Linked DNA regions of Homo sapiens. The protein of the gene in region 3 interacts with the protein of the main gene of each other region in a pairwise test. Each region holds a gene or a part of one and is shown on either strand. Other genes may lie near its edges. The genes, in order: NEK6, ABI2 and PRDM6.

Region 1 (3,822 bases), on a different chromosome or scaffold from region 3:
AAAAGAATGTGGGTCTTTTTTGCTTCCTTCCAGGTTTTGTTTGCTAAAAGAAGACGTCCAAAGTTCATTCGGTAAGCTCAAACTCGCTGAGTCCAAACTCGCTGAGTCCGGGGCAGGCGCTTCCAGACGGCTCTGCGTCCCTTTCAATGAAATTCTTCTTCCATTAACGACAGGGTTTTTAAACGTGCCTCCAAGACCTGCCTGCACGTACTGTACACCAAACTAAGGCGACATTTTCCCCCAAAAAAGGCAAGCTGAATTTGGAAAAGTCAGACCAACTAGGGAGCTCTGGAATTTCTAAAGTTTGCCTTAAAGCAATTAAGACTTTCAGCTGCAAAGATTTTCAACAGTTAGAGAGCACGCACACACACAAAAGCCTGTCAGTCAAAACTGCAAGGACAGACCTCGGAAGCTGGTGTCCCAAGCCCGCTGTGATCAATTTGTTACTGTCCTGGGATTCACACTTGGAGCCTAGGAGAGGTATAAATAAATCAAAAGATCCGTCTACTTAGCAGGGCAGGCAGAGAGGCCCCCACATACACAGGCAAGTCTAGGGTCAGCCCCCCAGGCCTGGCTGGAGAGAGACAAGAACAAAGACAGGAGAGCCTGGAGGATATTTAGGAAAACACACGTCCTCGGGTGCCCGGCCGAGGGGCCCACCACAGCCTCCGCTCGCCCAGCCTGTGTATGCAGAGAGGGTCCTGCCAGTGGCCCTGCCGCAGCCTGGCTCTAAGACCTTTGCCTCTGTCAGGCCCAGCCAGGCTCTGAGTCTGCCCTCCTGGCCCCTGGTTCACCGGATCAGGCCCAGCCCCGACCCCCAGCCCATGCCAGGCCGCTTCTCTCTCCACGGGCTCCCTGGCTCGGGGGCCATCACTGTGCAAAGGCCTGGTGGGCGCAAAGGGGGCCGGCCCCTCAACCTCAGTAATAAACACGCTCGCACGGCCCTGCACACTCGTTATACTCACACCCACACAGGCATACTTTCGCCCTTCTAGGCTCACGCATGTGCTTGCACACAAATCACTTTGGAATGCACACACGTGCACACACACACTCCCTGAGACCCGCACGTACTCCCTGCGGCGCCCGGCACACTCCTCCGCCCGTCGTCCCCACTCGGGAAGTGGGTAGCGGGGAGCCATGCCCGCGTCCCCGCACGCACTCACCCCAACAACGCCACCAGACGCTCCGGGGTGCACACGCACACCCGCCGGGGACGCGCACACCCCGGGACACGCGGACACGCCGCCCCCGCCCGCCCGGCCGCCGACACGCTCAGCCCCGCGCGGCCACACTCGCGCCCGCCTCCCGCTCTCCCCCGCGGAGCCGTGGGCGCGCGCCCGCCCTCGGCCCGGCTGGGGGTGACGGCCCCGCCGCCCGGCCCCCGCCCTTCTCCGGGCCGCGGGGCCCCACCGGCCCGGCCCCAGCCCCAGGCGACTCACCGGCGCGCGGGCGGGCTCGGCTGCCGCTGGGGGACCGGTGCGCTGGCCCGCGGGCGGCTGGAGCGGTGCGTCCCACACGAGTTTGCGGCGCAGCGGCCGCACGCCCGTCAGCTCGGTTCCGCCGCCGCCGCCACCGCCTGCGCGGGCCCGCGCGCCCGCGCGCCCGCCCCTCCCCGCCGCGGGGCCGCGCCGCCCCCAGCGCTCGTGCGCGCTGCCGCCACGCAAGCTTGAGGGGCGGGGGGCGCCCCGGCGGCGTCCTTCCTGGGCCTGGACCCCTCGACTCCGCCGAGTTCTGCGGCCGATCCGCTCGGCCGAGGAACCCCTTCCCCATTTCAGAGATGGGAAGACTGAGGCCCAGACTCACAGGGCGCAGGCCGGCGTCTCCCCATCTTCTCCGGCTCTAGACTTATGATGAGGGTCTGCAGTCAGCCAACCCTTGGACTCCTGTGCGTCTTCGGATTCCCCATCGCCTAGCATTGCTCCTACCACAGCCCTAGTCATACTGAAATTGGCACAGTAACAAGCACTTATTGTGCACCAGCTGAATGCAGGCACTGAAGTAGGCTCCAAGAGTATTCCGATGAGGGGAAGGCCCTGCCCCCTGCCCTCAAAGTGCCAGCGACTCTTCATCTGGAGCTCCCACTTCCTGTGGCCCCCGGGGGACCAGCAAGAGCCAATGTGCAGAGGTTTCTGGAAGTAGTAAAAGTCCCCACTAAAGAATGTTGAACGCCCCCTCTAGAAGTCAGAGCCTCCCTGAGACCCAAGCAGCTCAGTTCTCACTTCACCTCCTCCCCGCACCGAGAGCGGCCGCTCCTGGCTGGGCTGTTTCCACCCCTGCTGCCTCCCCTCCACATTCAAAACTGTGCTGCACCCCAGGAGGGCTGGAGCCAGGGACACTGACTGCCTGCTTGGGCGCAGCACTGTACTGGGCACAGGGTGAATGCCCGTCTGGCTTCTGTTTGCCAAATGAGTGGAAGTGCTTCAACTGGCCGTGATCTGTAATAATGACACCAACGGAGCGTCCACCACGTGTGCCAACGTTACCCTTGTGCCCATTTTACAGATGGGCTTTGAGGCTTAGAAATGAAATTTCAGGCTGGGTGCGGTGGCTCACACCTGTAATCCCAGTACTATGGGAGGCTGAGGTGGGAGGATGCCTTGAGGCTGGGAGTTTGAGGCCAGCCTGGGCAATATAGCAAAACCCCATGTCTACAGAAAAATGTAAGAATTAGCTGGGTGTGGTAGTGCCTGCCTGCAGTCCCAGCTACTCGGGACGCTGAGGCGGGAGGGTCTCTTGAGCATAGGAGTTAGCAGCTGCAGTGAGCTATGATCGCACCACTGCACTCCAACCTGGACAACAACAATAAAAAGCAAATTCTTTTGTTCAAAGTCACCCAGATGGTAAGTGGTTGAGCTGGAAAGTGCACGGCAGATTGTCTAATTCCAGTGCCTGTGTGGCCAATCACTAGGCAGCCCTGCCTCAGGAACAGCATAGCCCTGGGCTTCTGGAACAAGAGGGCAGACGAGGCAGCAGCTGGCCCACAGGAGCGGGCCTGGTCCCAGCTCTTGTGGATGAAAATGCAGACATCACAAACCAATGGGGAGGAAATGGATTGTTCTGCAAATTGTTTAGCCGTTTAGCTGGAGATCTGTTTACAGCCTTGCCTCCCATGATATACACCACAATAAATGTCAGACAGATTGAAAAGTTAAATAGAAGAAATAAACACTGCAACAAATAATAGAAAGAAATCGAAGTTCTGAGACAGCGTATTGCAGTGTTACTAGAGGATTTGTGATACTGGCCATATTCATGCAGCAAACATTAGTTCAGTCATTGGTTCACCCGACACATCTATGAGCACCTTCCATGGGCCAGGTACTTTTCTAGGCACTGGGATAAAGGAGTGAACAAAATATGGCCCTTTCTTGGGGCTTCAGTCAAGGGGGAGGGATGGGGTGGGAGGAAGACACTGAATATCTGCCATTTCAAGGATAAGAAGTTTGGGCCGGGCGCGGTGGCTCACGCCTGTAATCCCAGCACTTTGGGAGGCCGACGCAGGCGGATCACAAGGTCAGGAGATCGAGACCATCCTGGATAACACGGTGAAACCCTGTCTCTACTAAAAATACAAAAAAATAGCCGGGCATGGTGGCAGGCGCCTGTAGTCCCAGCTACTTGGGAGGCTGAGGCAGGAGAATGGCGTGAACCCGGGAGGCGAAGTTTGCAGTGAGCCGAGATCGCGCCACTACACTCCAGCCTCAGTGACAGAGCGAGACTCTGTCTCCAAAAAAAAAAAAAAAAGAAGTTTGGTGGAGAAATAACTCGGAAGGGTAGGAGGACCCAGGGGTGCTTTTTTATAGGGGGTGCTGGAAGAAG
Region 2 (3,498 bases), on a different chromosome or scaffold from region 3:
TGGATACTATCTATCTTTGAGACAAGACAAGACTGCTCTGACGCCTAAAATCCTATTCACAAATACGAGAAACCCATAAATGTTTTAGCTGGGTATTTGTTTCCTACATTATTCTTCACCTTACCTAATGATACCAAAATAATAAAGGTACAGAGGAAATAAGATGGGCTTGAAAAGTGAGAAAAGCTGAAACATCATTTTGGGTATTGTGAAGACAAACTTACTTGCTACCCTCAGATACATCATTAGAAAATTCTTTTATAATCTAGGCTCTCATAGCAACAAAGCACAGGCTAGTTAGTGGTTTGTCTTTTAGATTCACTTCTGACCAGTCTGCAATATTTTTTAGTCAACACCCATCTTCAGTGTTTGTCTGTTGAATTAAAAAAACTGTACATTAACAGAATTAGATTTGGAGAAAAGTGGTAAGAAAACCCCAGGTGCGAGTGGAGCAAAAACAGGATTAGAAAGTTCTTAATTAGAACAGCTGTCTTCAGGGAAGAAACTTGAGATCAAATTTAAAGCTCAACATTTTAAATCTTTGAAAATTTAAAAAGACGACTTCTTCAGTAATAAAAGGCAGCTCCCTGGTTTAGAGCAACAGAAAAGTCAGATTATCCCTAACACGTAAACTCAAGATACCACCTTAGAAAAAGAGGTTATTTATATAAATAAGTTAACAAGACACCTGAATATACTTTGTGGGATTTTATTTAGGTCAAGTTCTTAGTACACGGCAACAATTCCAAATACAATTAAAAAATTAAAAAGTGATGTTCCTCCACTCATCTGGAGGTGGTTTAATGGCACACAAGGAACATTACTGGCAACAGACTGCTCCCTCAAGTTCCCCTGGATGGTTTTTACTCAACTCATAATACCACCAACTCTCCCTCTGGGAGCTAAAAGTACAACTGGCCAGATCACAAATTGTTTACATTCTTTTTTGTAAGCCATTTTAAGAAAAATGGTGCATGGACACAAAATATGATAAAAACTGCTTTTCCATAGAATTCTTAAGTTGCAAAAGAGGTTTCATTTTAATGTGAAAATAAGCTTTTTTTGTTGGTTTTTCTTTTTTCTTACAAAAAACCTTAAGATATTCAGCAAGGATCATTTATACACAGCTAGGCCCCGCCGTTTCGTTTTAATTGTTTTTTTTTTTTAATAATTATATGAGATTCTCAAAACAGGAACAAAGGTCAGCACAAAGTAAACTTAAAGGTAATGAGCTCAATGCCTCCATTTAATCACTTTTATAAGGCTCTCTCCAATAAGGCTGCTGTGCTGTGCTCCTGCCAGTGTTGGAGTAATATAACATTTTTACTGCACACACCTTATGGGAAAGTGTTTATACTGAGTGTAGTTTTAGGAGGGGTAAATGAAGATTATTTCCACAAATTAAGATTGCACTTAGTACACGCCTTTACACAACTCTGATGGTATTTACCAAAACATGGCATGTCTTTTCACGTATATTCCTGAAAACACCAAATAGAACTCTTAACTTTTAAAGAAAAATACAGCACATTTAGTTAAGACAGTTGTGGTGCAGTGGAAAATTAAGTACTGAGCACTGAGTGAGAACTCTGCTGTTATTAACTAGCTGTTCATATGAAGAAGAAAACTCACCTCATCAGTCTAATGAGACAACCAGAAATTTTAAAAATTTCATCTAGCTCAAACTCAGTGATTCTAAATCTTATATGGGGGAAATTACCACCTTAACACCAATCAGGAGTTCCCGGCCAAAAAGACCAGAAGTGAGCAGATCCCATTCTTTTCAAAGACTTGTCAGTCACCTGTGAATTCCTCCATCAAACCTTTTTCAAAGGCAAAGGTGACCTTCAGGACATGTCATGCTGTCTCCACAAAGGAGAAAAGAAAAGGTAGTAAAAGATAAAAACAGTTCTTAATGCAGAAAGGTCACCTACTAAAAGAAAATGAACATAAAAAGATAAAAGCAAACTACCATCATTTTGATGCCTCCCAAAGAGAAAAATCTTTAGTTATCTTCAACATAAACTGCCAAGGAGCACAGGTACGGTCCAGACATCACGGTAAATATGCATAAAATATTGTCTAGCTGGATAATAAACACCAGCAGTAGGAAAAAGGAGGGGATGAAAATGTCTCACACCCAGTAACTTTTAGGAACATAGCAAAATTAGCAGGCCACTGTCAACTCTAAAATGGGAACAGCAGGCGCCTCTGAGGGAGATAGGAAGTAGCTAAATGATGGAAAATATTAAACAAGATAGCTTAGAAGATTCATATTTATTCCAAATGGGAGGCTGAATCTCTCAGATGTCGATTTTGACACATTGGCACTATTTTTGTTTCTGATTTATTGCCTTGGCCGTAAGTTCAAAGGCAACAATAAAGTGTACTTTCATTAATACCACCATGGACTTTCGAGTATTAATATGACAAGAAAAGACAACTATTCATTTTTTTTAAGGGGACTGGACACACAAACTTCAGGAGGGAAGAATCCCCTCTCCCATTAGAATCCCTCTATCTTGATAAAATGGTTGCTTTATTGGTCAGATTTTGGACTTGGATCGTCTGTTATAATATTAATAGTACACAGCATGTAAGATTTTCTGCATTCATTTGAAATTCCTAATACCAACCATCTTTTAATTTATAAAAAAAGAGGGAAACTTACAATAAAACAAAAAATACTACCCTCACAGATGATTAATAGCATGCAATCTATGAAATATTACATACATTAAAAGTCTCCAATTACTGTGTGCCTGACCCATCACACAGTATCCTTCCAAGACAATCTATAGAATTCAAAACTGTACAAAAATTATAAAATATGCAGAAAACCCAAAAGGTACTGTTTGTAAAACAAAGATCACACACACATTAGTACTAAATAGGGAAAAAAAATCAGCAGACCCATGGACTACCCCTGCTCCCAACCACAGGTCTTCAGTATAAAGGACTTCACCAGTGTCTTCTGCACTGCCCCCATCCCGTAGGGGTCCAAAAGACCAGCTGCATTCCTGCTGACCGCCACTAACTCTGTTTTCTGCATAGTTGTCTTCCCTGCTTCTGTAGTGGTGAGCTGTGGGAACTTTTTTTTTTTTTTTTTGATGGAGTCTCGCTCTGTCACCAGGCTGGAGTGCAGTGGCACAATCTCGGCTCACTGCAACCTCTGCCTCCCAGGTTCCAGTGATTCTCCTGCCTCAGCCTCCCAAGTAGCTGGGACTACAGGTGTGCGCCACCACGCCCAGCTAATTTTTGTGTTTTTAGTAGAGATGGGGTTTCACCATGTTGGCCAGGATGGTCTCAATTTATTGACCTCATGATCCACCCACCTCGGCCTCCGAAAGTGCTGGGATTACAGGCATAAGCCACCACACCCAGCCTGTGGGAACTATTTATTGGATTTCAAAACACCCTCTGCCTCATTAATCCACTAAGCTTTCTCAGCAAAAAGCTGTTTAAATAAATAATGGGAACATCTAATTTAAAACAGTT
Region 3 (3,600 bases):
TCCGGGCTTTTGGTGTGTGGAGAGGCCAACAGTCATGTGTAGGCGCGTGGGGAGTGAGAGCTACATCACATCTTCACTCCCCAGTACCTGCCCGACGCCTTCGTTGGCTCTCACCCGCCCTGCATATAGGAAAGCAAGGAGTAGGTGAAAAGCCTGCTTCCCCGCCTGGGCGCCACTATCCACCCCGGCTGTAAATCCTCCCCTACCGCCGCCAAGGTCGCGGCCCTCAGTCTCGCAGGCCGAGACCCGAGGGGCCGGCGCCCATCGATCCCAGCCCGGCGACTAGGACCCGGGAGTGCCGCCTGCTGGCAGTGCCGCGTGCGCCCTAGGCGGGGAGGGGCGTGGGGGCTGGGGAGCCGGGCAGAGGGCGGGCAGGCAGAGCATCCGGGCCCGAACTTCTCGCGTGGGGTTCACGCCCCCGGGGCTCCAGCCTGCGGTCCCCCCACTGCCTTCTCGAGCTATAGGCTAGATGGGATGGCTGAAAGGGAGCGATGGGCGGGGTGGGGCGCCCAGGCCTCAGCGCCGAAGGCTGAGTTTTGAAGGTCCCACCCCGCTCCTGCCCACGAAAGGCTCTCTTCTGACATGAGGCGTGGCCGCCGACACCACCCACGATCCGACGTCCCCACTGCACCCCGCCACCCACCCGGCCCTCCTCCTCTACCCGGCAGGGGTCTTCCAAGCCCCGGGAGCGGGTCTAGAAGCAGATCCAGAGGCGAGGCAGGTTTGCCTGGCCGCCGGAAGGGGAGCCAATTGATTTCAGTCTCGACCCTGCGGGGCGGCCCAGCTCCTGGGAATTCTCTCAGGAACTCTCCCTCTACGCGAGTTTAAAGCTCCCCGCGAATCGCAAAAGCTCTGGGCGTTCTCTGCCCTGCCTGGCTGCGGGCTTGACCCTGGGACCAAGAGGGAGAGACAAAAAGAAGAGAGCAAGAAGGTGGGAGGGAGAAAATGTGGGTCTTATTTGTCTTCCGATGACTGTATTAATAAATTAAATGGGAGCGCCAGTTTGTGAGGGTGAGAGAATATTGCGCAGAGATAAACCTCGCCGGCCCCTGCCCCTGCGAGGCTGCCATATACAATGCGGAGATGATGAATAGGAGCCGCGAGAGGAGATCGAAGCGGGTCTGGGCTGGCTCCACTCTCTCCTACAAAACTATAGGGCAATTAATTGTGGCTTGTCCCCTCATCCTTCATCTCCTGGTGGCACATATCGATGGAGATTACTGCTGATGGACCATTTTATCACCTTGAATAAACAGTCGCCACCTCTTCTAACCTCAATCTAATATATGGCTGTATGTTCGGTTTCAGGGCGCTAGATAACGAAAGATGTAAAATAGCTAAATCATGTGTGTTATGGGATGAGGCTGGGCTTGCACACACGCGAGAGAGAGAGAGAGAGAGAGAGAGAAACACAAAAGCCCACGCACTGAAGCCAAAGCTCCCTCCCACCCGGACCAGGTCTGCAATCTAAGGCGCTCGCTGGTCTTTGACAGAGGAGGCGCAGGGCAGAAGGGGCGCAGTGGATGTTCCTCGGTTGCACAAAAAGCCTGCTGGTGTGCCACTGGGCTCGAAGTTGCCCAAACAGGACCTGCGTTTTCCACCTGGGTGGGAAGGGATTAGGGAAGGTCAGAAAACACTCGCCCTCCTTTGTCTCTTTCCTTGACCCCTTAGCAAGCAACCGGACAAACCAGTGTTAGGCCCAGACTCCCTTTTCTCTCCCCAGCCCCTCTCCCTAAACCCTTGGAAAGCCTGGTGTTCCCAACAAGGAAGCCTCAAGCCCCGCTCCCACACCCATGCACACACCGGCGCTGTTTCCAGCCTGTTCCCTGCGCAGGAGGGTTCCAGTAAATCGGGAGGGGACAGAGACCCCTCCCCCAACTGGGGAATTTGCAAAGTGGTCCAACTCTCCCCCGAGACACCCAAAGTGGCTCAGTTCCCGCCTCCCTCCCAGGTCCTAGGGAAGCACATCTTTACAAAAAAGGCCTGAAAAACTAATGGGCTGTGCTGAGAGAACAGCCGGGATGCTACTCAGAAACGCCAGGCGCGCCCTGTGACTGTCTCTCTCTACTTTTCAAGAGCAGGCAACGCACCAGCTCCCAGAACCCGGGAAGAGGCCACTCCGATGGAGCCTGACTAAATCAATGGCTTCAGGCAGCCCAGCAGCAAATGAGGGCAGTAATATTAGACGGGGAAGGAAGGGCCCCATCCCCCATTTATATCGCAGGAGGCACCACTTGATTTTTAAGAGAAGGCGGCAGCAGCAGCAACAGCAAAGCATTCAGAGCTTCGGTGGAAACTGTACTTCAGTCACAGGGTAAACTGATACGGAGTTAGGAACATACTGGAAAAGCTCACCCGGGTAGCTTGCAGTTTCTGCTGTTTTAAAATCTTTTAGAACGAAAGAGAGCTACAAGCCCCATCACTGTGACATTTACCATAGATGCCAATAAAGTTTCAAGGTGAAACTAGTGTTCCTAAGTTCTTTTCTTACAGAGCAATGATATGTATTGCTGATCCTAGGCAAAAAGTTACTTTGCTAAAGGGAAGGGAGAAGTAAGGAGGCACCCCCGCATCCCGCCCTTTTTATTTCGCCTTGTGAGAAAAAGAGAAAACAACTCAATACCTATCCTTTTAAGTACGAAGTGACAAAATGAAGCAATGCTAAGTGGTCACTTCACAGAATTCTTTTAGAGGGAGATGGTAAAAAAACTAAAAGAAAAACTAGGGAAATCTATACATGATAAATTAATAGGAGCTTCCCTCTGCCTCCACCCTTCCTTTCACTCCACCTCCACTCACATACAACTCGAGAATGAGGAGAAGCTTCTGTTTTTCACAGCCTTTCAATAACCATTATGCCAACTTCCCCTGCCAAAGGAAACGAGTTTCCCACTATTTGCATTTCTGACTTGTTTTAAGCCCCTACTTAGATTAAACTCAATCACGTTTCATCTTTGTAAAAGTACATCCCATGGCTTCAAATGAGTGCCTAAGCTTGCTTGTCCAGAGAAGTTCCTGGAAGAATGGGAGATCTCGTCTCCCAGCATTACACAGCGCTATCTCAGCTTTCTATTTTCTTTCTCAATTGCCCTTTAATTAGTGAGCAACGTGGGGTGTAACTCTAATAGGACAATCTAATTTTCTTTCCCTTCTGTCTTTTCCCCTGCACTTCAAACACTGAAACAATCCAGTTGGCTCAAAAGGAGATACCAGAAGATTAACACAATATAAATTATTTAAATAAAATTGTAATTTATTTTCTCCAACCAGAGAAAAAAGTTACCCAGGCAATAAACTGGTTCAATACCCATATATTAATTAGGAATCTATCCTAATTCTTTCTCGAATTAGTCTGTTTTCTCTGGTGAAAACGTATTAATTTTCCAGACTGCATTGTAAACAGTACAGGAGCTCAGCACACAGCCAGGGATTTGGGGTGTACTGCTGGTGACTTCTCTAGCATATATTTAATTCAGAAGTGAAATTGCAAGATTGATGAAGCATTCTCAGCCTGCAATGGCTATATTTCACTTAGCAGTAAGACATACCTTTTCCAAGGCAGTTTAAAAATCTTTTTATTTCATAATTTAAAATACTTGC

What was found.
Region 1: the proteins of PRDM6 (region 3) and NEK6 interact in binary tests that used the Homo sapiens proteins (3 or more experiments, as listed by UniProt).
Region 2: the proteins of PRDM6 (region 3) and ABI2 interact in binary tests that used the Homo sapiens proteins (3 or more experiments, as listed by UniProt).

Annotation. Positions count from the first base shown.
Region 1 is NC_000009.12:124,255,706-124,259,527, reverse strand, and holds the start of NEK6 (serine/threonine-protein kinase Nek6), read right to left. Parts: upstream 1,580-3,822; 5' UTR 1,443-1,579; intron 1,288-1,442; exon of another isoform or gene 1,167-1,287; intron 319-1,166; exon of another isoform or gene 34-318; intron 1-33. UniProt on the Homo sapiens protein: Protein kinase which plays an important role in mitotic cell cycle progression. Required for chromosome segregation at metaphase-anaphase transition, robust mitotic spindle formation and cytokinesis.
Region 2 is NC_000002.12:203,429,365-203,432,862, reverse strand, and holds the end of ABI2 (abl interactor 2), read right to left. Parts: 3' UTR 1,863-3,498; coding exon of another isoform or gene 1,858-1,862; 3' UTR 694-1,857; downstream 1-693. UniProt on the Homo sapiens protein: Regulator of actin cytoskeleton dynamics underlying cell motility and adhesion. Functions as a component of the WAVE complex, which activates actin nucleating machinery Arp2/3 to drive lamellipodia formation.
Region 3 is NC_000005.10:123,092,241-123,095,840, reverse strand, and holds part of PRDM6 (putative histone-lysine N-methyltransferase PRDM6), read right to left. Parts: intron 1-3,600. UniProt on the Homo sapiens protein: Putative histone methyltransferase that acts as a transcriptional repressor of smooth muscle gene expression.